2 separate regions of the Homo sapiens genome follow, and region 2 is linked to region 1. The links come from fine-mapping of genetic effects on gene expression. A gene starts in region 1. The other region holds a variant in brackets. All regions are shown on one strand. Distances are from middle to middle.

Region 1 (11,822 bases):
AGACTCATACACTCTAAAGAGATTTATAAACTAGAATCTATTTGTCAGATGTTCCTGTCGGTCCGCAGGTGACTTACTGTCCCCAAACTGTATGGCTTCACTGGGGTGGGGGTGGTCCAGGAGTGGCAGGCCTTACAAGGGATCAGCAATGCCTGCCCTGGCCAGCGGCAGCACCAGAACCACCTGAGCTCTGGGCCAGACTGCCAGGGTTCCAGTCCCACCTCCCTGCTTTCTAGGGTGTGATCTTGGGTAAGTTATGTAACTCAGTGGGCCTCCGTTTTGCCATCTATAAAATGGGACTAGTAATGGTACCAACTTCGTGAGATTTGTTAGGATTAATGACATGTAAGATTCTAGACCAGCGTCTGGTACATAGTACGGGCTCAGAATGCTATTTTTTGAAATAATGATAAAGCCCCTGGGGTTTTATCATTGGACAGGAGGCAAGTGAAGCGGTGGCCATTGGCCTAGCCGGCTGCCCAGGGTCCAAGACTATGATCCCACAGCCCAGAGTGGCTGCTCTGGGCACTCACTGTGAAGAGGTCCTGGGGGTCGCCCAAGATGAGGGTCCAAAATCTGCTACTCACTTCCCTGCATAGCAATTCTTTTCTTGGCCAGGGCTCAGCACTCTGAAAATCTGGACCCAGCCTGAGGTTCTTAAGTCAGCTATGCTGACAAGGGGTACTCCATACTCCATCTGCCCTGAGTTTTGGAAGCCGTCCCTTCAGTACCAGCACAGAGCAACAGTGTCCCAGGCCTGCGATACAAGGTCCACAGACATCTCCCCGACTCTCCCAGCTGGTGGAGGGTGGATTTCTTGCAGATGGCCACATGCACACAGCTCACCGCCATTTCCACATGTCCATTCATTAATTGAGTCAATGAACATTCATTGAGAACTGACTGTGAGCTCCGGACTCACATGTACTATCTCACTTAACCCCCCAGGTACCCTATGCATCATCATGATTTTCTTCTTTCCATTTGGCAGATGAACACGCTGAGGCTCAGAGACACTGAGTTACTTGCCTAAGGCCACAGAGCCGGTTAGAAGAGGACTAGGACCTTGAACCTAAATCCAGGATGGTTCTAGTGGCTAAATCCCACTCTCATACTGCCTCCTTGAGCCCTCCCCCACAGGAAGCAGGAAAGGGCTGGCCATGGTCTTCTGGTCCCCTAGCTGTCATACACTTTCTTTGGGGAGATCTGAGCCTCATTTCTTCCACCCCCATCCTGATCAGTTCTCTCTCCCACAGATAAGAAACTGCTTGACATTTCCTGGTCCTGGTGTAGCAACAGAGGTGGTGGGGATGAGTCACTGGAGGGAAGCAGCTGGCAGTTGTGTGGGGTCGGGGAAGGAGGGCTGGTCAGTGCTCACTCTGGAGGGGTGGGGGCAGGAAGCACTGGGGAGGCCTGCCTGGGAGTTCCTGAGCTCCCAGCTGCTCCTTCCAGTCCCCAAAGCTATGTGTAACAGAGTTCTCCTCACCAGGCAGGTTCACAGAGAACGAAGCTCTGGAGGAAATGAGAGGAAACCAGGAAGGGGAACCAGAAGCAGTTGTGAAAGCCCAGCTCTCTGCCTCAGTCCTTGTGTTGTGGGATGGCGGCTCCTTCTCTCTGGGTTTTGTGCCAGCTTCAATGAACCCTGGCTAGACAACTCTCACCCCAGAGCTCCCTGTTCCAGTTGAGAATGCACCAGCACTCCTGAGGCCCTCTCCCTCCGCTCCTCCCAGGCTGCCGCATAATAACACCAGTGGCACTGATTGATAACTGTCGATGTGCCTGCCCCATGTTAAGGGCTTCACGTGCAGCCTCTCTGCTAAACCTCCAATAACTCCCACCAGGTAGGCCCTGTTATTATCACCATTTTACAGATGAGCAAACTGAGGCCTAGAGAAGTGAAATCACTGGCCCATGGTCCCATAACCAGGACTTGAACCCAGATCTGTCAGGTCCAAAATCCCTGGGCTCAACCACAACAGGTCTCTGACAACATCATGTTCCTCCACACGTGCCCATCAGTGCTGAAACCTTTCCCCTGGCCCCAACCCCAAAGACTAGGCCCAACCCCCGCTCCGCAGGCCTCTCTCCTGCAGTCCCAGGTGATAACAGTAGTCTCACTCCAAGCATCTTTGAAATCCAATTACATCCCCATTCTTCCTCGTCCATAGTGGTTTCTGGCTGCAGACACTGGCAATCCCTGTGCCCACCACACCTTCCTGCAGGGGCACAAACACAGACACACAGGCGCACTCTTAAGTGCTCACTCACACCTGGCCACCAAGGAGGTGTTGCTGCCCCTGCTTGTGGAGGGCGACCAGGGCAGATGGAGCCCCTGCTGCTCCCAGGTTCCTGTGGGAGTCTGGAGGAGTGACCCTCCCACCCCTGCAACAGCCGCTGGCTGCTTCCTGGCTCCATCCCCAACCCCACTCCCATCCCCACCCCCCTGGGGCCTTGAGAGGAACACTTCACCAAGGTAAGAATCACAATAATAATGTCAATAATAGGAATCAGCATTTCCAGTTTGCAAACCTTTTTCATCGAATCACCTCACTTGACTCTCACAAGTTCTATGAGGCAGATATTTTTATATCCGTGCAGGCGAGGGTCGTATAGCTACTTAGGAGCAGAGCCAAGGTCCTAGCCGACTTATCTCACTCTCACCTAGAATAATGATGACTCCTCATTGTTACCGTGCACCAAGCATCTATTCTTGCCTGTCGTTAGGGGCACACTTAATGAATGTCAATGTTACTCCTCACAGCAGCCCAGTGAGGTGAGTTTTTTTTTTATGCCCAGTGTAAAGATCAGGTAACTCAGAAGAGTTGAGGGCAGAATGGCTGCCTAAGGGATGTTTCTGAACTGGACACATCACTTTAGAAAAGTATATAGGGGCCGGGCGCGGTGGCTCACGCCTGTAATCCCCGCACTTTGGGAGGCCGAGGCGGGCGGATCATGAGGTCAGGAGATCGAGACTATCCTGACTAACATGGTGAAACCCCGACTCTACTAAAAATACAAAAAATTAGCCGGGTGTGGTCGTGGGTGCCTGTAGTCCCAGCTACTCGGGAGGCTGAGGCAGGAGAATGGCATGGACCCAGGAGGCGGAGCTTGCAGTGAGCCGAGATCACGCCACTGCACTCCAGCCTGGGCGACAGAACGAGACTCCATCTCAAAATAAATAAATAAGTAAATAAATAAATGAAAAGTATATAGGGAGGAAGACAATAAGAGCCTCTAATGGGTGCTTTCTGGAGAGCGGATGCAGGGGGTTATGGATAGAGCCAGCTGCTTCTCCCCTGGTCCCCCTCCAAGCACTTTGCCTGTTATCTTGAGCGGTTACTGTTGCTGCTGTTGACTATCTGTGCAGTCATCTACAAGGGGGCTGTGAACTCTCCAAGGACAGGGACACTGTCCTGTTCACCCCTGGGGCCCCAGCACATAGCACCTTGCCTGGCATAAGGGTGAGGCACTGTCAGGATGGCCTCGTTCACAAAGGATGGTGGGGCAGCCTTGGCCCAGCCTGAGCTCCCAGCCTCCCCAGCTTCCCCGTTGATAAGGAGACTGAGAGAATACAGACACCCAGAGGGCAAAGGTTATCCACTCCAAATACCACTTAAGGTGGGAATTCTTCCTCTGCTGTCCTCATCAACCCTTCCCTGGATTCTGCTTGCATGCTGCTAGTGACAGGGCACTCATTCATGACAACTAAGGCAGCCTCTTCCATGTTGGAAAACTTGGAGTGATTGTGACAAAGGCCTCCCACTGATGTATGATCAGGCTGGCTGGGATTACAAGCACAGACCCTGCTGCTAGTCTTTAGGGTTACACCAAGCAGAGCACTGGCAGGTGTCCCCAAGTCTGGGAGGACATTGCACATGAATGACGCTGGGGGCCCTCCCTTCAGCAATCCAGAGCCCTGAGTGCCAGAAAGGCAGAAGAGGGAGTGACAAATGAATTCATCAACCCAGCTTGGCCCAGCTCTGTAAAGGCAGTGAGGTGAGACTGAGTTGTTGCAGAAATTACTATAGAGCCTTGAGTCAGATGGCTCCACCCAACACACCTTAAAAATAATCCTCATCTAGAGTCACATACTTTGATTGATTGATTGATTCATTCATTATTGGCTATCACTGTCTAGGTGTTTGGCTGGGGGCAGTGTCAGTGGCACTGGGGCATCAGAGTTTATCTACCTTAGTAATCAGGACAGTTTATATTCACTGAGCACTTACTATGAACCAAGGACTGTTCTGTTTACTTCCTTGCCAAGGGCACAGACTCTCCTGCCCAATCCCAGCTCTGGTGAGGACAGTGGGAGCCTGCATGGCACAGAGTCCATGCACAGTAAACATGAGCAGCTCCTATTAACTCTAAATCTCTACAGCAACCATAGCCGGTTCTTACTATTGGTTGCTCTAGGTGACTTACTTTGTCCAAGGCCACACAGGCACTAAAAGGCAGAGTCAGGATTTGAACCTAGGTGATCTGGTTCCAGAGCCTGCTCTATTAACCGTTAAGGAACTGGTGCAGACAGAACCGAGACCTGGAGTCAGAATGCCCACCTAGCTAGATGCCTGAGGCAGCCACTCACCTCTTTCTGTCTTATTTACTTGTGAAATGGAGCATGTCATCAGCCTTGCCTTCCTTTTCCCGCAGCCCCCCACCCCGGTTCCTGGCCCACTGTGACCATCAGATCAGATGAAAGAGATCCAGGCATTTCTCTAAGGAGAGCACAGGGTGGTGGGGGTTGGGGTGGGAGAGAGCACATTATTTTCCCACCATAAGGGGTTGAAGGAGCCCAGAATTTGGGGGTGGGGCCTTGTCTGTAGGAGCCTGGTTCTCTCAGGTTGACACGCCACCAGAGAGCCTCCATGACCCCCAACCCTCATCCTCACCCCAGCCCCCCATAGGATGTGTAGAGACAAAAGGTTTGACAACTGTAGCGCCAACAAGCGTCCTAGAGCCCCAGATAAGATCCTAGCCTCCTGACAGCGCAACTGACAGCAGCATCTCTGAGGCTGGATTTTAGGGTGGAGTATGAAGAAGGTGGCCGTAGTGACAGTGGGGTCATGTTATTTGGCCAAGTCACACCAAGCAGGGAGAGAGAAGGGTGGGCCTAGGCTGGAAGCCTGAAGGCTGAGTGAACTCAAACTTTAACGACCATGGCCTGTAAAATGGGACTAAGCACAGCGCCCTTATGGGTTGCTGTGAAAATCAAATGAGTTAATACTTGTAACTCCTTTAGCATATGGTGTCTGGCATCAGAGAGTGCGCAGCAAACGGTGACTATTGTCGTGACTGTGTTATTACACACTTGGGTATCACCGCCAGCCAAAGCAGTCCCTTCCATTTCAGGCACCGGCCTGGGCCCGGGAGACACCGCAAGGCTATTTAAGATGGTGTGGTTTGCCCATCTACGTTGATCGTCCCAAGAAAGGGGCACCGTCTGCAGAACTTGCCAGGAAAGTCATCCTGGGCGGCGCGGGCCACGCCAGGGTCTCCCCGCGCGGCTTCCTCCCCCGGCGCCTTCTCTCGGGCGCGCGTGCGCCCCCTGCAGGCGGCCCCCGGGAGAGCCTCGCGGGGGAGCCGGGAGCCTGGTTTCCCCGCCAACCCCCATCCCGCCCGCCCCGGCGGCCACCCTGGGGGCGAGGCAGCCCGGCGCGTGGGAGGGGACGGCGCGCCATTGGCTTGTGCGCGGAACCGAGAGGAGGGACCAGCGCGGGCCGCCAGACTCGGTAAGCCCCGGCCGCGCAGGGCGCCGCGCGCAGTCCAGCCGGCCCGGCCCTGCCCTGCCCTGCCCTGTCCTGCCCTGCCCTGCCCTGCCCTGCCCTGCACTGCCCGGCCCGGCACGGGCGGCGCGATGTGAGGCGTCCGAGCCCGGAGCCTCCGCCTGGCATCAGCTCCACGTAGCCCAGCGCCGGCACGCGCGAGGCCCGTAAGTTCTGCTCCCCGCCGCCGCTTCCGAGCCGCGGACTTTCCCCTCCCGCCGCCCGCCGCCTGCGCAGCGCAACCCAGCGGGGCTCCTGCGGCCGACGGGACCGCAGAGGGGCGGCCGGGACCCCGCGCGCGCTAACCGGGCGCCCCGGGACATCTCGGCACCCGCTGAGCCCGCTGGGACCCCAGGGGGTCGCCTCCCCAGCTCCCCAAGGCGCCGTCCCGCAGCCCCTTCCGTCTCCCCTGCGCGCTCTCCCCTCGCCGCCCCTCCCTCTGACTCGGTTTCCCCTCTCCCCCGGCTCCGCGGTCGCCCTCCTCCTGGACTGCTTATTTCGTCCTCGGCCACTGCCTCTCGGGCTCGAGCTTTCTGCTTCAGAGCAGGAGAGAAACGGAGCGAAAGCAGTTTCTGTCTCCCCGGGGTCTGACTCGGTCCCCCGCGCTCGGTTCTCTGTCCCCTCCCCCTCCCGCCATTGTTCCCGGCAGGAGGAGTGCGCGGCGCAAACTTGCGAGTTCCCCCAGTCTTTGCCCCCGCAGGGCCGCGGACGGAGGTGGTGGCGGAGTTCCCGCTGCCCACAAGTCTGGCCCGACCTTCTGGGGTGGGGGCCTGGGGGCAGGGGCCCTGGGCCGGAGAACCCGGGGCCGCCTAACGGCTCGGAGCTCACCGCCGGGGGACACCGGCGCTGAGGCCTGGGTCTCAGAAAGTGGGTGAGTGTCTGGAGCGGGGACATCAGGGACAGATTGCAGGGGGAGGGGCGAGGCTGAGAGAGTCCCCCGTCCCCAGGCTGGAAAGGGGCGGGCAGAAACCCAGGCCGCGCCTTAGCCCAGTTAGGGGGTGGGTAGGGGACGCACAGGTGGAGACGCCCCCCACTCTCCCCAAAGTCGCGCGATCTGCAGGAAGGGTACAGTGTGGGGCCACTGGCCGGGCGCTGGGTGGGTTAGGGCCCCTGCCGTGGGCAGAACACTCGCACCTACCCGGGGGAGGCTGTGTGGAGGAAGGGCCAGAACGCCGCGCCCACCCCGGCGCGCCCCGCTGGGCGGGGCGGGGCGGGGCGCTCGCCTTGGGTCCCCTCGCTCTACCTTCCTTCGCCCTGACCCAGTCTCGGGCTTCCGCCTCTTCCTGGAGCCCGGGGGGAGTGGGTTTCTCCGCCGGAGAGATGGAGGCTGGGGCAAGAGCAGCGCGGAGGCCAAGAACCCCCAGGCTCCTCCAAAGCCCAGAGCGGCTGGCCAAGGCCCCCTCACCGCCCCACTACCCTGCACTTCCTGATTGGTTTCTTTCAAACAAACTTCTTGACGGGGCGGGCCTGCGGGGAGAAGTCACCGGGGCTGCCCACCCCAACTATGTGGTCCCTTGGACCTCCACCCCTGACGGCCTGTGGAGAGGGGACCAGGATCTGCGGCCCGCAGATCCCAGGGACGCGGGGGTCGTTTTGTTGCAGAGCCAGGAGGGGGCACTGTCCGCTCCTTAGCCTCAGCCCCAGACTTCGAGAAAGGAGAGAAAAGATTTTTCTTGTTGGGTTGTTAGGAAATAAGACTATTCTCCAGGCTTCTGTTGTCCCATCTGTAAAATGGGTCGTCTTGTTCCTGAGGCCCCCTCTGTCCCCACCATCCCAGGAGGCCCCTGCCATGGCCGCTTCTTTCCCAGTCACATGTCGTCAACTTCCTCCGTGCTTCCAAATTTGGAGTGGAGGGCTAAGGCCGAAAGCCCCTTCACCCATGTCCAGCTGTCATGACCTGCCAGTTCTAGGACTGCGACCTATTTTCTGCACAGCTCTGCCTCCAGGCCCCTTGTGGCTTCTCCAGCTCACACCCAGCCTCCCAATTTCTTTTGATAGCCCCACCTCTGTGGGAAGAAGGGCCTGCCCCTCTTGGGGTATGGGGGAGGAGGGGGCTGGATTTAACAGGAATGCCCCATAGTCACACAGTTTGGGGCTGTTCTTTACTTTTGCTTATTGAACAAAATGTTTGTGAGCATTACACCAAAAATGGCTTATGGAGCAAAGTGCCAGGGACAGTTTCAGGCACTGGGGAGACAGCTGTGGACAAAATAAAAATTTTTGTCCTCATGGAGCTGATGCTTAAAAGCAGGGGGCAGGGGGAGGCAATTCCCTAATAAAAACAATAAGCAAATTATATAGTGTACTGAGAGGTGAAGGGGAAAAGTTGTGTTGGGGGTATTGAGGCCAGGGACCGGGTTGTCATTTTAAATAGGGTGTCAGGGAGGTCTCCCTGAGGAGGTAACTTTTGAGCTACAGCCTTGAGGGAGATGAGGGAGTGAGCTGTGTAGACAGCTAGAGCACAGCCCATGCAAAGGCCCTGAGGCTGGAATGTGCCTACCCTGCAGCTAGCAGGGAGTGAGGGGCTGAGGAAGAGTGAGTGACTGAGAAGGGATGAATTCCTCCCCTTTCACAGGTGAGGGAAGTGAGGCTCAGAGACAGTATGTCAGTCACCCCAGGACACACAGGCCAGGAGAGGCAGCTGCAGGGCGGGGTGCCTGATGTTCTGACTCCTGGTCCACGATACCTCCCCGGCACCCTGTGTCTCACTGTTTATCCTGCTACACTGGCTGGACCCCTCCCAGGGCCAGCGCAGCATCGTCCTCCTGCCCCAAAGTGACCCTTGCTCTCTCTCATCCCACTTCCTTCCTATGACCAGTCCCTTCTGAGCACCCAACTCTGACCTGGCACATGATCCCTAGAAGGGGACCTGCTCTGAGGCAGATTTGGTCAAGGGGGCAACTGAGGCAAGGAAGTAGAGTCTTCTAGTCTAAAAATAATGAGCAGCATTATTATTGAACATTAACTACAAAACAGGCGCTGTTCTGGATTTTTTTGGTGCATCTTCTCACTGGTGAGAGGTTGGTGTCATTATTACACCCCATTTAACAGATGAGGAAACTGAGGCCCAGGGAGGCAGAGTCACTGGCCCAAAGGCATACAGCTCATCAGTGGTAGAGCCAGGATGGAGCACAAGCCTTTTAAGTCATGAGCTAGTCCTTTAACCACTAAGCCAGCACCCCAGGATTGGGGAGACACTCAGTCCTGGACTATGGTTGTGGCCCATCTTATCCTGCGAAAAGGGCAGGGACCCTTCCACCTGCCTCCCCCAACTCACCCAGAAGACAAATCACCGCTTGCTTTTGAAGAAACGGGCTCAAAATGTGGAGCATCCCTTCGAGGAAGCTCCTGTCCTTTCCTCTCCCTTCCTCTCCCACCCTCTTCTCCCCTCTAAGTTCCTGAACAGCCACGGGGTGGGGGAGGGGCATGGGGAGAGTGGGGTGCAGGTCGGAGAGGGAGGTGCCTGCTGCATTCTCACCAGACCCCTAGCCCGATAGGATCTGGAAGTCAGGCTGTCCTGATGACGACACCAGCTGCCCTTGAGGGCCCTGACATGGTCACTGGGCCAAGGGGCAGGCTGGCCTATTCTCAGAGTCGAAAAGGACAGGAATTCTTCATGTTCTGCCCATGTGAATGACCGTCGAGACAGGAAAAACCTCCCAGTGACTTCTGAGCGGTGATGGAGGCCATCAGAGGGCCTGATCCCCTTGCCCACAGCAGCAGCTTCAGACCCCCGGGGGAGGAGCCCAGGAATGCCTCCTTCTTGCCACCTGCTCTGCCCTGACCTCTCGCCCTCTTCAGCACAGTAAGGAATGTTCATATTTGTCCCTAAAGCTTTGGAAATGTTTCTGATGAAAGGTTGGGCTTTCCTCTGCCTTTCTGGAAATTGGGCCCCTTCAAAAAGAAAGAGTAGGAAGATAGGACCTGTGTGCCAGTCCAGGCTGAGGGGTGGCGGGTCTTGGGGATGAGGCAGCTTGAGCTGGGGCCCAGCAGGGACCTGGAGTGTGGCCGCTGTGAGGCAGGGCTGGGAGGGGCCCTAGAGACCACATTCTCATTTTCTTAGACAAAGAAACTGAGCCCCAAAGACAGGGCCTGGCTTACCAGTGATGGCAGAATCTGCCTGTGACCTCAGCTGTCCTGTCTCCGAGCCCAGTGACTCAGGACACACTGCCACCTTCCAGCTCCAGGACAAACCTTCCACTACCAGATCTCAGGGCACATGTTCCTGGAGGTTCTTGGAAATGGGGCGTGGAACCTTTCTCAACTGCAGAGCTGTGTCATGGAGACGGGGGTTGCCACTGCCACGGGACTCGCATCCTGCGCCTGCCTCTCCCGGCCAGTTCCGCTCTGTCCTCACTCTTTGCAGCAGCCTGGACACTGAGCCCAGTGGTGATGCTGAGATGATGAGGAAGACGGATGCTGCAGCTCCGCCCTCCACTGGCTCAGGATCTGCTTGAGAGACAAGACTGACTAAGGCAGCCCCAGCCTTTGGAATAATGATGCTCTCGAGGGATGGCCTGATAGCAAGCCAGCTGGAGCCAGCCAAGGCCCATCCACCGGGTAGCCTCGCCTCAGCTTCCTCCTTAGCTGTGGGCCTCCGATGAAACCTGCACCCCAGAGGCCGCTGTGAGGATGTCAGTAGTGCAGCCGCTTTCATAAAGCCTCTTTTGTGTCCCATGACTTCTAGATTATCTCTCTAGCCCCCGGACAGCCTTGTGACTCAGGGACCACCGCCCCATTTACGGTGGAAGGAAGGGAGGCTCCTTCAAAGAGGAGTTTGTCTGCCCAAAGGCACGAGCCTAGTAGTGCAGAGCCAAGATCTGAACACAAGTCCCTTAGTCCCTAAGCCTCTCCAGTACAGCCATTGACAAGTGGATTCACTGCCTGATGGCCCAGGCAATAGATTCTGGGCTAGGGGATCTCTAGACTCCATCCTGCCCAAGGGGCCGACGGCAGCCCTGGGAGGGACCGCAGCTGGAGCGGATGACGCAAGCTCTGGACCTTCTATTCCGTCCCGCCCTCCAGGGAGCAGAGATTCTTTCTCCTGCCTCCCCTTCTCTCTGGCCGGGGGCCTGAGGCTCTGGCTCTCACTGCCAGCACCCCGCCCCCCAACTCTGTGTTGCCCTGTCCCAGACCCCATTTCCAGCTATTTTGTACTAAAGCGATAACAGAACAATGGGTCTCCCTGCATCCCTCCCCAAGTCCTGCTGGAGTCGCAGGGCCTTAACCCAAGGGAGGCTGGACCCCAGAGAGGAGTCCAGATGCTGGCGACCACCAGGGACTTTCCGGGGGAGTTGCCATGGGGAAGATGGGTTAGAGCTCAGTTCACGTCCACCAAACGCCCCCCCACCCCCACCACCGCACACATTGCACACACACATCAGCTTCTCTTAGGATGTCCAGTTAAAGAACAGTTACCTTGGCTTGAATTCCAGCTCTGCCACTTACCTCAAGGGACACTCGAATAAGTCACATGAGCCTTCGTTTTCTCATGTGTAAGATGGGGGTGATAATATGGCCATTCTCATAGGGTTGTGGTGGGGATAGCAGGGGATTCATGGTCTTGAAGTACTTGCCCCGCTCCTCCCAGCCCCGGGGTAGGTGGCCCTGGGGGCAGTCTTCCTTATGAGGGGTGGAGGAACAGGTGTGCTGCCTGCCCCTATCACAGAAGCTCTTGTTTGGAAAGGCAGTGGCTCCTTGGCTGAGGTGTGCAGCAGCAGTGACTCCCCCTTGACTCACAGGGAGGCTTGGCCACTGATGGATGTTCTGGGCCCCTTCCTCTTCCCTCCCTCATCTTCCCCACTCCCCCAGCCAGTCAGGTTTCCTAAGCCAGCCCTCACGGGCATAGTCTTCATGCTGGGGACAGCTCGGCAGTCCATCTGTTTCTATAGAAACCAGGCTTCCTGGGAAAGAGACAGGGGGTTGGGGAAGTCCTCCAGGATCTGCATGGGAATGACGCCTCAGTCCCATCTGATCTGGCCAGGGCAGAGCCTGGGCAGCCACCTTATTCATGTTATTAATTGCTGTCCTTTACAGAGTACACACCAGAGGCCAGGC
Region 2 (11,822 bases), 150 kb before region 1:
TGACCAGACAAGAGAATGAAAATGCAAGGCTAGGGCTCACGATTATATGAGCACTGGGCTGGGAGTAGAGAGACTTGGGTTCTCTGTTACTCTCATCACACTCTGAGTCAGCTTCCTGCCCACACAGTGAGTGGGCCTTCCCCCTCCAGGGTAAACAGTCCTGCCTGTCTCTCTGCATCTGCTCTTCTGTACATCAGGCCTGCTCTCCCTTCCTCGGTCGACCAGTTCACACTAATCAGCTTGGCAAGCCCAGCCCAATTGCTGCCATTCCCAGGAAGCCTTCCCTGACTGCTCTGGCATTGAACTGATTACCTTGGCTGCCCCTGTGCAATGGGCCAGGCACCACCTTCTGTGGCCAGAGGCTCGCCTGGCGTTTCCAGCATCCACCAGGGCGGCCAGCACAGGGCTGGGGGCCCAGGGTGTGTGTCACAGGTCATCTGGACCTAATGGACTGGGATGGCAGGGGGGAAGGAGGCTGTGGCACGGTGCAAGGGGGGCTGGACCTAATGGACTGGGGTGGTATGGGGGAAGGAGGCTGTGGCACGGTGTGAAGGAGGCTCCCACAGAAGACGTTATTGCTCTTCTACTCCCTTCCTGGGAGTGGCTGGATTGCAGAGGGCAGTGTTGGGGCCCCAGCTGGGGTGCTTCCCCTCATGCCGGCCCCAGGGAGTGCTGCAAGGCTGAACTTTAGTCTTTCCTCATCTGTGTCCAGCTAGCATCTCCCCGGGAAAGCCAGCTTTCCAGAAACTAAGACAGGAAGAGCCTTTGGGGATCATTAAACACACATCGGCCCAGGTCACACAGGCTTTCGGCAAAGAGCCTGTGACTCTGCTCAGCCTCCAGCTCTGAGCCCTGAACGCCTTCTTCTTCCTCCGCTCAGCCTCCAGCTCTGAGCCCTGAACGCCTTCTTCTTCCTCCGCTCAGCCTCCAGCTCTGAGCCCTGAACGCCTTCTTCTTCCTCCGCTCAGCCTCCAGCTCTGAGCCCTGAACGCCTTCTTCTTCCTCCGCTCAGCCTCCAGCTCTGAGCCCTGAACGCCTTCTTCTTCCTCCGCTCAGCCTCCAGCTCTGAGCCCTGAACGCCTTCTTCTTCCTCCGCTCAGCCTCCAGCTCTGAGCCCTGAACGCCTTCTTCTTCCTCCGCTCAGCCTCCAGCTCTGAGCCCTGAACGCCTTCTTCTTCCTCCGCTCAGCCTCCAGCTCTGAGCCCTGAACGCCTTCTTCTTCCTCCGCTCAGCCTCCAGCTCTGAGCCCTGAACGCCTTCTTCTTCCTCCGCTCAGCCTCCAGCTCTGAGCCCTGAACGCCTTCTTCTTCCTCCGCTCAGCCTCCAGCTCTGAGCCCTGAACGCCTTCTTCTTCCTCCGCTCAGCCTCCAGCTCTGAGCCCTGAACGCCTTCTTCTTCCTCCGCTCAGCCTCCAGCTCTGAGCCCTGAACGCCTTCTTCTTCCTCCGCTCAGCCTCCAGCTCTGAGCCCTGAACGCCTTCTTCTTCCTCTGCTCAGCCTCTAGCTCTGAGCCCTGAACGCCTTCTTCTTCTTCTTCTTCTTCTTCTTCTTCTTTTTTTTTTTTTTGAGACAGAGTGTTGCTCTGTCACCCAGGCTGCAGTGCAGTAGTGCAATCTCACCTCACTGCAACCTCAGCCTCCTGGGTTCAAGCAATTATCCTGCCTCAGCCTCCTGAGTGGCTGGGACTACAGGTGCAGACCACCATGCCCAGCTAATTTTTGTATTTTAAGTAGAGACAGGGTTTCACCATGTTGGCCAGGATGGTCTCGATCTCCTGACCTCGTGATCTGCCCACCTCGGCCTCCCAAAGTGTTGGGATTACAGGCGTGAGCCCATGACCGGCCAAATACCTTCTTTTGACACTTGAAGGAGACCTCCCAGGTCTGAGGACTGGGCAAGTCTCTGCTCTGCAGCCTGACAGCACCCCCTCCCTAACTGGAAGTTCTCCTTAGCTCTCTCCTCTCATGGAACAGACACACCTCTCAGCCCAGTAAGGTGACTAGGGTGCAAGAAGTGTGGGGAAAGGGAGAAGCTGCTTTCCCTGGCTAAAGTCCTATTAATCCCCACCCCCCCACTTCCAACACACACACACAAAGCCACAATACTTGTCCCTCTGTTGGAAGACTCTGGAGCTGGTTAAGAATACAGCATTTGGATTAGATATCCCTGGGTGCAGATTCCATCTCTGCTACTTATTGTCTGCATGACCCTGGGCAAATACTTAAACTTTGTAAGTTTCTTCTCTGAGAAGTGGGACTAACCCAGTTCCTACCTCAAGCTGGTTATTGTGCACATCCAATGAGAGAAAATATGCAAAATATATAGCACAGGCCTGGCCCATAATAAGTGTTCAATAAAAGGCGGCTTCTGTTGTGGCTTATGAGCTCAGTCCCAGTGAGAAGCCTCAGTTCCATAAAGAAAGGAACTGCCCGGTTGAGGATGGGAAGCTGTTGACTGGCTGATGGGTATGCAAATAACCTCTCTGATGTCAACATACCACGGACCTATGGAGGAGAGGGCTGCTGCTCAGGGTGATCTCACCAGCCAATCAGCAGCAGCAGATGATGATGAGCACCAGTGGGTGGGTATGGCTTGAGAAGGGGAGGGAGGAAAGAAGCAGCAGACAGACAGAAGGACTGGGAGTTCAGGGCTGCCAATCAGGACATCTGGGCTCCCAGCTTGACTCTGAAAATGAAGAGCCATTTGTGTAGGCTGTGAAAGGCTGAGCATGAGTTTCTTCACCTATGACATGGGGTGGCCCCTCTGCCTATTTTTTTCTCCTGGGGTGAGTGTGAGGATCACCCCATCACTCTGATGGATAGGACAAGGTTCTGAAAGGTACAAAGAGGTCTCAGTCACTCGGATTTTAAGGACAATTAGCGAATCAGTATGGCTGAGGGATTGCTCTTAATTACTCAAACTTTCAAATTTCATTTTAGCCCTTGGATGGAAATATTTTTAGAAATGTGATAGAGTTCCCGACTTTATTACATAGTGTAATTGATGTAGGATGTGTTGATGCATTCAGAATCTGCCAAATGATGCCATTTTATGATGCTTAAAAAAAATAAAAAATCTTTGGTTTCCCGACATTAGCTAGCATCCCTCCCTGCTGTCACTGCACCTGCCTCTCAATTCTTCTCCCATCCCATAAAACTTTCTACTTCTAATCTGCTGTGAATTTGAGAGTCAGACCTACAGCTCTGTCAGAACAGCGGGTGAAGTAAGAGTAACTGGGTCCTGAGACAGGCTGAAGAGCTCACAAGTAAAGTGCATGAGCTTCAGAATTGGCAGTCTAAGCTAGAAAGAATGCATAAGACCTACTATTTGATAGCACAACAGGGTGACTACAGTAAGTAATAACTTAATTGTACAGTTTAAAATAATGAAAACACTGTAATTGGATTGTTTATAACACAAAGAATAAATGCTTGAGGGGATGGATACCCCACTCTCCATGATGTGATTATGGCGCATTGCATGCCTGTATCAGAACATCTCATGTGCCCCATACATATACGCACCTGCTATGTAGCCACAGAAATTAAAAATAAAAAAAGTAAAAAAAAAAGGCAGTGTAAGGCAGGTGCTTCCTCACTCCTGGTCTTGGCTGTGGACCCAGGAGATGTGGGGCCAGAGCCTGTGATTTTTTTTTTTTTTTTTTTTTTTTTAAGATGGAGTCTCACTCTGTTACCCAGGCTGGAGTGCAGTGGCACGATCTTGGCTCACTGCAACCTCCGCCTCCCGAGTTCAAGCAATTCTCCTGCCTCAGCCTCTGGAGTAGCCGGAACTACAGGCACACATCACCACACCTAATTTTTTTGTATCTTTAGTAGAGACAGCGTTTCACTGTGTTGTCCAGGCTGCTCTCGAATTCCTGAGCTCAGGCAATCTGCCCACCTCAGCCTCCCAAAGTGCTAGGATTACAGGCGTGAGCCACCACACCCGGCCCAGAGCCTGTGATCTTAATCTCAAGGCCATCAGGCATCGCGTGCCATTCCTGCTGCTCCACTGCCCCTGCCCCAGTCTAGCCTTCCCTCCCTCCCTCAGCTGGCTTCCTGCAGTAGCCCTCTGGCTAGACATCCCTCCTGCCAATGATCCCTCTCCAGTCCACTTCAATACACTATCAGCCATTTTCCAGAATCTGATTACCTTCTTTTGTTGCTTGAAACACTCCATTGACTCTTTAGAGCTGCAGAATCCAGCTCAAACTCCCTTGCTTAGTACAACACTCCTCAGGAGCCCACCCTTGGGGGTCTTCTAGCCTCACCTTCGCCCGCCTTCCTGTTCCCACATCCTCTGTGTGGCCCTTTCCCATACCCACTATGGAGCACTACCTTTCTCAGGCTTCACAGTGCTATTCTTTCTGACCTCCCCCAACTTCCTCACCTGGGAAAATACAACCCAGGTGTCACTCCTTCCAGGAATTCTCCATTGCCCCTTTCTAGACTTAATTGAATTGTTCCCCACCACCACCCCATAGTCATGGTAGTGGTTAAAATCATGGATCCTGGGACCTGACCACATGGATGCAAATCCCAGCTCTGCCTCCTCATAGCTGTGCGAGCCTGGGCAAGTCACCTGGCCTGGTTTCCCACCTGTAAAGTGGAACTAGCATTAGTAGCAACCTCACTGACCTCATCTCATGCCAACCTCTATCTCGTAATGATTGGTTTCCAGTCTCCCCGACTAAGTCCAAGCTTTTCAAGAGCAAGCACAGTCTCCATTCATCTGTGCTCTTCCTTCCCTGGTGTCTGGTGCAGAGTCAGGTACACATCCCCTGCTCAATGATGGCCAAATGCAGGAATGGATGTCAAGGCCAACATTGGCCAGAGGGTCCTTCCTTAGCACACAGGAACACCCAGCACTGTGTGAGTTTTCCTTGCATGTCAGTCTTCTTCCTGGCCCCAGATGATAAGTCCCTGGGGATGAGGGGAACGAGGCCATCCCCTCCATCAGCTGTGGTGCTAGTCACTGGGCCTGATACTCTGAGGCCTGGGTGGGTTCCCTGAAGGTGCCGCTAGGGCACTGTCCATGGTGCTGAAGAGCTCTGTCACGTGACTAATTCCTCCTTCTGAGATGGTAGTTGGG[GA/A]GTGAAGGGATTTGCTTCAGGGCAGCCACGAATGGATTTTTCATCTCCAATCCCAGCCAGCACATTTTGTTCTGACATTTCTTTGGCACCTTTGCCAATGACGTGACGGTGCCTGTGCAGCTCTTTCCCCTGCCTTCCAAATTCCTTGGAGAACTGTCATATTCCCCACTCCCCACTTCCTCCTGCCACTGCAGGCACCTCCAAACATGAGTGTATCACCCAGAGATGTGGACTGAAGAGAGTGGAACACAGCCTGTGGCCCCAGTTGCCAACAAGGCGGCTCCATGCTTTCCGTAGCCTGCTTGTCTCACCTACAGGTGGTCCTAAGCCCTGGATGTGTCCCAATAGCTCCGTCCTCAAGGACAAGCTAAACAGGAAAAGCCTGGCCAGAAAAAATGGTAGTGAAAATAAATTCTGATTCTATGTGTGCAGTAGAGTTCAATGGTCTGAGCATCTGAGCGACACTTGAGTTTGAATCCCATTACCCCTGTGTGATCTTGAGTGATTTGTTCCACCCCTGAGCTTCAATTTCCTCACCTGTTAAATGGGAGGGATGAAAGCTTTCCCACAGGATTGTGGTGAGGACAAAATTAGACAATGTAGGTAAATGTGCTGGCAATTCTGCCGGCATGTAACAAATGCTCACGTTTGGTAGCTACTATTCCTCAGACTTTACTTGATAGAGAAGCCTGTGAATTTCAGACTGGAAGGGAACCTAGTCCAGTGCCTTCAGTTTACATACAAGGAAATTGAGGCTCAGCCAGGTGAAGGACTTGTTTAAGGTCACATGGCCAGTAAGGGAGAGGACTCAGGAGAGCAGGGGAATCTTCAAACTTGTGAGCTATTGATGCATTAAGTCACCAGGATGCTGAAGTTGGAGGTATGGGGGGCTGCATACAGGATGAAGGTAAAGGTGCTTTCTATTTAGCTGCAGGAAATATCCTTGATTTGAACCTTAAAACCAAATTCCCTGGCCTCATCTTCATCCCATTTACCTCTCAGCCACATTTCCAGGTTGGTAGCCTCATTATCCCCGTTTGCCAGATGAGAAAAAGGAGGCTCAGAGGAGCAAGGAGACTGGTGCATGGCCACGCAGCTGCCTCCCTGCCAGGATTGGCATGAAGATCATGTGAGATGAGCAGGCAGGAGTTCCTGAAACAGGCCTGGCAGAGAATGTACTTGGAAATGACAACGTTCCCTTCTCCCTCCTGAAGGAGTCAGTCCTCACATTTCAGAGTAGAAAAAGGCATTTCTGTTCACGCTACCCAGTGCCTCTGTGATTCCACAGGCTTCTAGCACAATCTCCTCAGGAAATAATCAGAAAGACACTAAAAATCAAAGCCAGTGAAGAGGCTGCTTGGGAGGTGGTGCAGAGTTGCTTAGCAAGCAGGTGAGAGAATAAGCTGAATGGGAGGCTTTAGGAACATCTGAGGATGTCTTTTATCTTCGGAGAGCCTGGCCAGAATAATGAAAACCCATTGGGCTTGATTCAAGGCACCTGAGCTTACATCCCAGGACCCTGCCTGCACCCCCACAACCCTCCTGCTTAGATCTCTGGGATCTGAGATTATGTCACCTATAATCTCACAACTTCAGTTTCTAGATGTGAAAAAATGAGAGTAACAATTTGTACCTAAAAATGTTAAGACGTGTGAATGAAATGGTTTACCTAAAGCATCCAGCACGGTGCCTGCACACAATAGGTGCTCAATAAATGTCAATTCACTTCTAGTCCTTTCATTTCCACCTATATTTATTCACCAAGGATTTATTGAGCATTTACTATGTGCCAGGTGCTGTTCCGAGTCCTAGTGATCTGGCAGTGAACATGGCAGGTGCCTGCTCTCATGGAGCTTTCATTTTACTGGCAGAAGTCAGAAAGAGAAAGAAGCCCGTAACAAACAAGAAAATGGAGCTATCAGCGTGTGCTATAAAGAGTTTTCCACTTGACAGTGAGAAGGAGTGGAGGGTGGTAATGTTAGACAGAAAGGACAATGCGGGCTTTAATGAGAAGATGACAACAAGCAGGGGCCTGAATAAAGATCTGGAGGAAGAGTATTCCAGGGAGAGGTAGTAGCAAGTGCAAGCGTTTTGAGGAGCCCCCACATTAGCAGCTTAAACAACTTACTTTCTCTCTCTGGTAAAGGAAGAGAGGTGAGCATCTCAGGCAGGCCCGGCACTCCACGATCATCAGGGATGCAATTGGCTCTGCCATCTTCAACATTGAACCCTACCTTGTGACCCGAAATGGGTGCCCCAGCTGTAGCCATCGTATCTGCGGCCATCATAATCTGCATTCCAGAGCAGAAAGCAGAAGGGTTAAAAAGAGAATGCCTTTCCCCAAGAGGACATGTCCCAGGGGTTGCAGTTCTATTGCATTGGTCAGAACTTTGTCACATAGTGACATGTAATTGCAGAGGAGTCTGGGAAATGTGGCCTCTACTCTCAGCTGCCATGTGCCTGACACCAAATTAGGGGTGCGTTCATCAGGAAGAGGGGAGAATAGATGATGAGAGACGGCTGGCCATCTGTGCCACAGTGACAAAGGCGAGACTGAAACCCCACGTCCTGACTCCCCAGCACTGTCTCTACTGCCCTTTCCCATCTCCTGTCCCCAACATGATGAGCAGATAGCAGCGGGGAGCAAGGCCAAATGTCAGGGGATGCCTGGGGAGATCAGGCTGAGGGAGCTGAGGGCTGGAGGAAATAAAAGGAGGAGGTGGGTGTGGAGGGGTTCCAAGGGGGAGCTGTTACAGAGGGAGGCCCAGCTGTAGATTCCTGTCCCCACGGCTTAGAAGGGCTGGCAGCTGGCTTTGAGGCCCATGGCAGGGAGACATCGCTGTCACCTTCTTTTGGGGGAGGCAGCCAGTGACACAGCTTCAGACAGCTCCCTATTGTTCCCAGCAGACAGGGTGGCAGGTTGGCGGGATCCCACTGTGGTGGCAGGTTGGGGAAGGGCGTTGTTAAGCAGTTGGCAAGGCCAGCCGGCCCAGTTCCCTGCCCCCATGCCTGTGCTGGTGGCTGGACAAGGGCAGTGGTGGCTCCAGACTCTGTTTATCTCCTTCTGCCAGGTACTGAGCTGCCAGTGTCTCCTCATCTCCCTCCCTTCCTTCCCTCCCTTCCTTCTTTCCCTTCCTTCCTTCCCTCCTCTCTTCCTTCCCTTCCTTCCCTCCTTCCTCCCTTCCTTCCCTCCTTCCTCCCTTCCTTCTCTCCTTCCTCCCTTCCTTCTCTCCCTCCTCCCTCCCTTCCTTCCCTCTATTCCTTCCCTCCCTTTCTTCATTCCTTCCCTCCTTCCCTCCCTCCTTCCGTCTTTTCCTCCCTCCCTCCCTTCCTTCCTTCCTTCCATCCTTCCATCCCTCCTTCCTTCCTTCTTTCCTCCCTCCCATTTTCTGCTCCCTCTACTTCCTCCCTTCAGTCCTCCCCTCCCCTCCCCTCCCCTCCCTTTCCTTCTCCTTTCCCCTCCTCTCCTCTTTCCTCCCGTCATATCCCTCTCTCCCTCTTTTCTTCCTGCATGTTCTTCCTTCCTGCCTTTTCTCCTCTTCCCCACCATGACTCACTTCCTTCTCCTGCTCTCTCAGCCTCCCCCACCCCCTCCCAGCCCATGCCCCACTCTGGGGTCCCTCCATGCAGCTGGGGCAGCACTGGGCAGAGGACATTCAGGGGCAGCCTGGGTGGCAGGTCGCATCTGTCCCGGGCCCTTCCCAGAAGCCTCCTGTTTCCTGTCCAGCATCAGGTGTTAGGAGAGGTCATGGCACCCCATCGTCTCACCTCCTGCTACCTGCCACCCACTACCCTGTGATTCCAGCCCACCCCCAGAGGAGGACAAGGGACTCACATTCATTGAGCTGCAACTGCATGCTAGCTACTTGCATGGCACTTCAATTTACTTAAGCCTCCCACAGTCCATTGAGGTGGCTTACTCTTATTCCCATTTTATAGATGAAGAAACCGAGGTTCAGAGAGGCAGAGCAGTGTGAAGCCACACGGTATGCTGCCGGGAGAGATGGTCCTCAAGACAGCTGGAACAAGGTGGATCAGAGGCTCCTGCTGTCGGGGCCTCCCAGTGCCAGCCCTGACTCCAGCTCTGAGCCTGATGCTACTTTCTGGCCCTTGATCCCATGCTTGTTTGGTCACTCAGCCCTCATCTTCAGATAAATCCAGGAGTAAGGAGAGAAAGAGAGACTGGGACCGCAGGAGGTACTCAATGATCTTTGCAGTAGGCCCAGATCTTTGCAGCCAACTTCTTGGTTCCTCAGTGCTGCTCAGCCTGAAACTCTCTAAATAGCCTCTCTCCCCCCACAGCCACCCCAGCATACACAGATACACACCCCACACATGGAACAGCTAGAGCACATGTGGCCTCCCACACCGCCGCTTCTGTGGGTGTGAGGGCGTAGCTGTCGTGGTGATGGTGGCAGCAATGGAGGTGGTGGGGTTGTTGTAGTGGCAGTGGTGGGGTAGTGGTGGTGATGACAAACAGCATATCATTTAGCCACACATAAATCTACAAGATACATAGTATACATGCAAACTATAAAGAAAAGCTGCACAATGATTAACACTGAGTAATGACAAATTGTGCTCACAGATAGATAACGTTTCCAAGAAACCACAAACCACACTCATAGACACAGACCAGGCTAACTGTGAGACCCCACCAGTGAGTAAGCACCGGTGAAACACCCCTTCCTCTCCACTGCCTTTCTGAGTGACAGTGGCTTGCTCACCAGACAACGCCGGTGCGGTTTTAACCCTCCTGCCTCCAAGATCAAAATTATTAAGTGCCCATGCACTCAGTCCAGAACTGGACTTGCTTTCCTGGTTTTCCTTGGAATCATCCAGCCAAGCCTAGATCTTCTCAGGGGCTTTCCAGATCCCTTTCCCTGAGACACCACCGAGGTTTCCCTGCGCTGTGCACTCCCTTGCAGCGACAAGCTTACGAAACCTCCCATTTTCTTACTGCAATCATGTTCTTGGGTCTCTGGGCCATGGGCTTCCACAGCACAACACGGAACCCAGTGGTTAACCTGGGCAGGGGGATATGGGGCAGCCACAGGGTCAGGGCAAGCGTGGGCTTGGAAAGCATTGGGAAGGTTTCTTAGGCTGGGTTTCTTAGTCTGGGCTTATACAAGCCTTCATTTATTATTATTTTACGATTTAACATAGTCTTTTAAATGTGCGTACGTTATATAGATTATTTTATATGTATGTTTCACAGTAAAAAGTAAAAATAGGCTGGGCACAGTGGCTCATGCCTATAATCCCAGCACTTTGGGAGGCCAAGGTGAGATGTTCACTTGAGCCCAGGAATTCAAAACCAGCCTGGGCAACATAACGAGACTCCATCTCTACCAAAAAAAAAAAAATTAGGCAGGCATGGTGGCACATGCTTATAGTCCCAGCTACCGAGGAAGCTGAGGTGGGAGGATCACTTGAGCTTGGGAGGTGGAGGCTGTGGTGAGACATGATTGCACCGCTATGCTCCAGTCTGGATGACAGAACGAGACCCTGTCTCTAAAAAAAGAAAAAAAGAAGTAAAAATTAAAAAGTTAATAAAAAAGAAAAAAACAACAACAGACGCCATATTCTTGCCAGATGCCCAGGGAATGACTCTGGCCTTTTTCCTGGGCCCCATTGGCCTGGGACCAGCAGAGCAGCCCTGGGGTCCTGGAGGAGTCAGGGCTGGTTCTCAGGACTGGGGCGAGGCCCTCTGAGGGGAGGAGGTCTGACCAGCAACTTGCCTTCCCCTCCATTCAGGGCCTTCCCCACATGCCCGGAATTCCTGACCTGGCCCTGGTGCTGCCTCCCTTAGGGACAAGAGGTGGGGGCCTTTGAGTGTTTGTTTAGAGGCATAGTTTCCTTAAATGGCTGGGTTTTTAAAAAATGTATGTGCCTGCAGCTAACTTCCTCTCCCTGACAGCCAGGGCATCGGATGCAGGAGGGCAGGCAAGAGACGGGAGGGGGCTGGGAGGAGTCCAGGGACGGGGGACAGAGGAGCCAGAAAGCTAGGCAAGGAGGCAGCTTCTAAAAAGCCTTGGGACCCCCCTTCCACTTCAGGAAGAAGGCACAAGGCCCAGACAGGGAACATGAGAAGCACGCAGCAGGCGGGCATTCCCACAGCAAATCAGGGACAACCGTGGGAATGCCAACCTGCTTATTTGTTTTTATTTCTATTAAGTCTTTTCCTGCCTCTGAGCCTTGGCACCTGCTGTTCCTTCTGCCTAGGCCCCCCTTTCTTTGGTTCTTCTAGTGACAAGCACCTTGTCGCTCTCCAGGTGTGAATGCTACTTCCTGACCATGCTTCCCCTATCCACACCAGCCCCTCCCACACCCCCGATTGTTATTTACATCATCCCGCTGAATGAATGAAGTCTGCAAGCTATGGAATAGGTAGTTGTAGGTTTCCTTTGGAGAGGAATCTGCTATATCTTAAAACAGTGATTTCTTCTGTTTTTTCAGTTTACTTTTGTAGCCACATCAGAAAATCAAACGGTAATTTTAAAACTGTGTTTCCCTAAGCTATTTGATGTAGTTATTTATTTAACATGTGAACTATACCTCCTCCAATAGGCTCATTATAGCTATTGTGAACACTTGAGAACTGTTTCTGAGACATAGCCATGCTAGAAAATGTATTATTTAACCAAAAGAACAAACTTTGGCATTCTGGTTATTTTTTTTCAATGAAGCATAGTATTATTTTAACAGACATGGGCTTTGATTTCTGAACT

What was found. PIP is the estimated chance that this variant, and not a neighbour inherited with it, causes the effect.
Region 2: its variant is fine-mapped to the expression of TP53I11 in whole blood (INTERVAL, PIP above 0.99).

What each region holds. Positions count from the first base shown.
Region 1 is chr11:44,944,787-44,956,608 of GRCh38, reverse strand. TP53I11 (tumor protein p53 inducible protein 11) reads left to right here and starts at 5,726. Exons shown (of 7, transcript NM_006034.5): 1 at 5,726-5,932. RefSeq lists silencers at 5,537-5,796, 5,827-5,956 and an enhancer at 10,834-11,437.
Region 2 is chr11:45,091,299-45,103,120 of GRCh38, reverse strand. It overlaps a transcript of PRDM11 not described here. Among named protein-coding and RNA genes, the nearest start is that of PRDM11, 49 kb to the left of the region's middle. RefSeq lists a silencer at 1-63 and enhancers at 859-1,397, 1,398-1,938. The variant GA/A (reference allele first, on the strand shown) is at 5,091.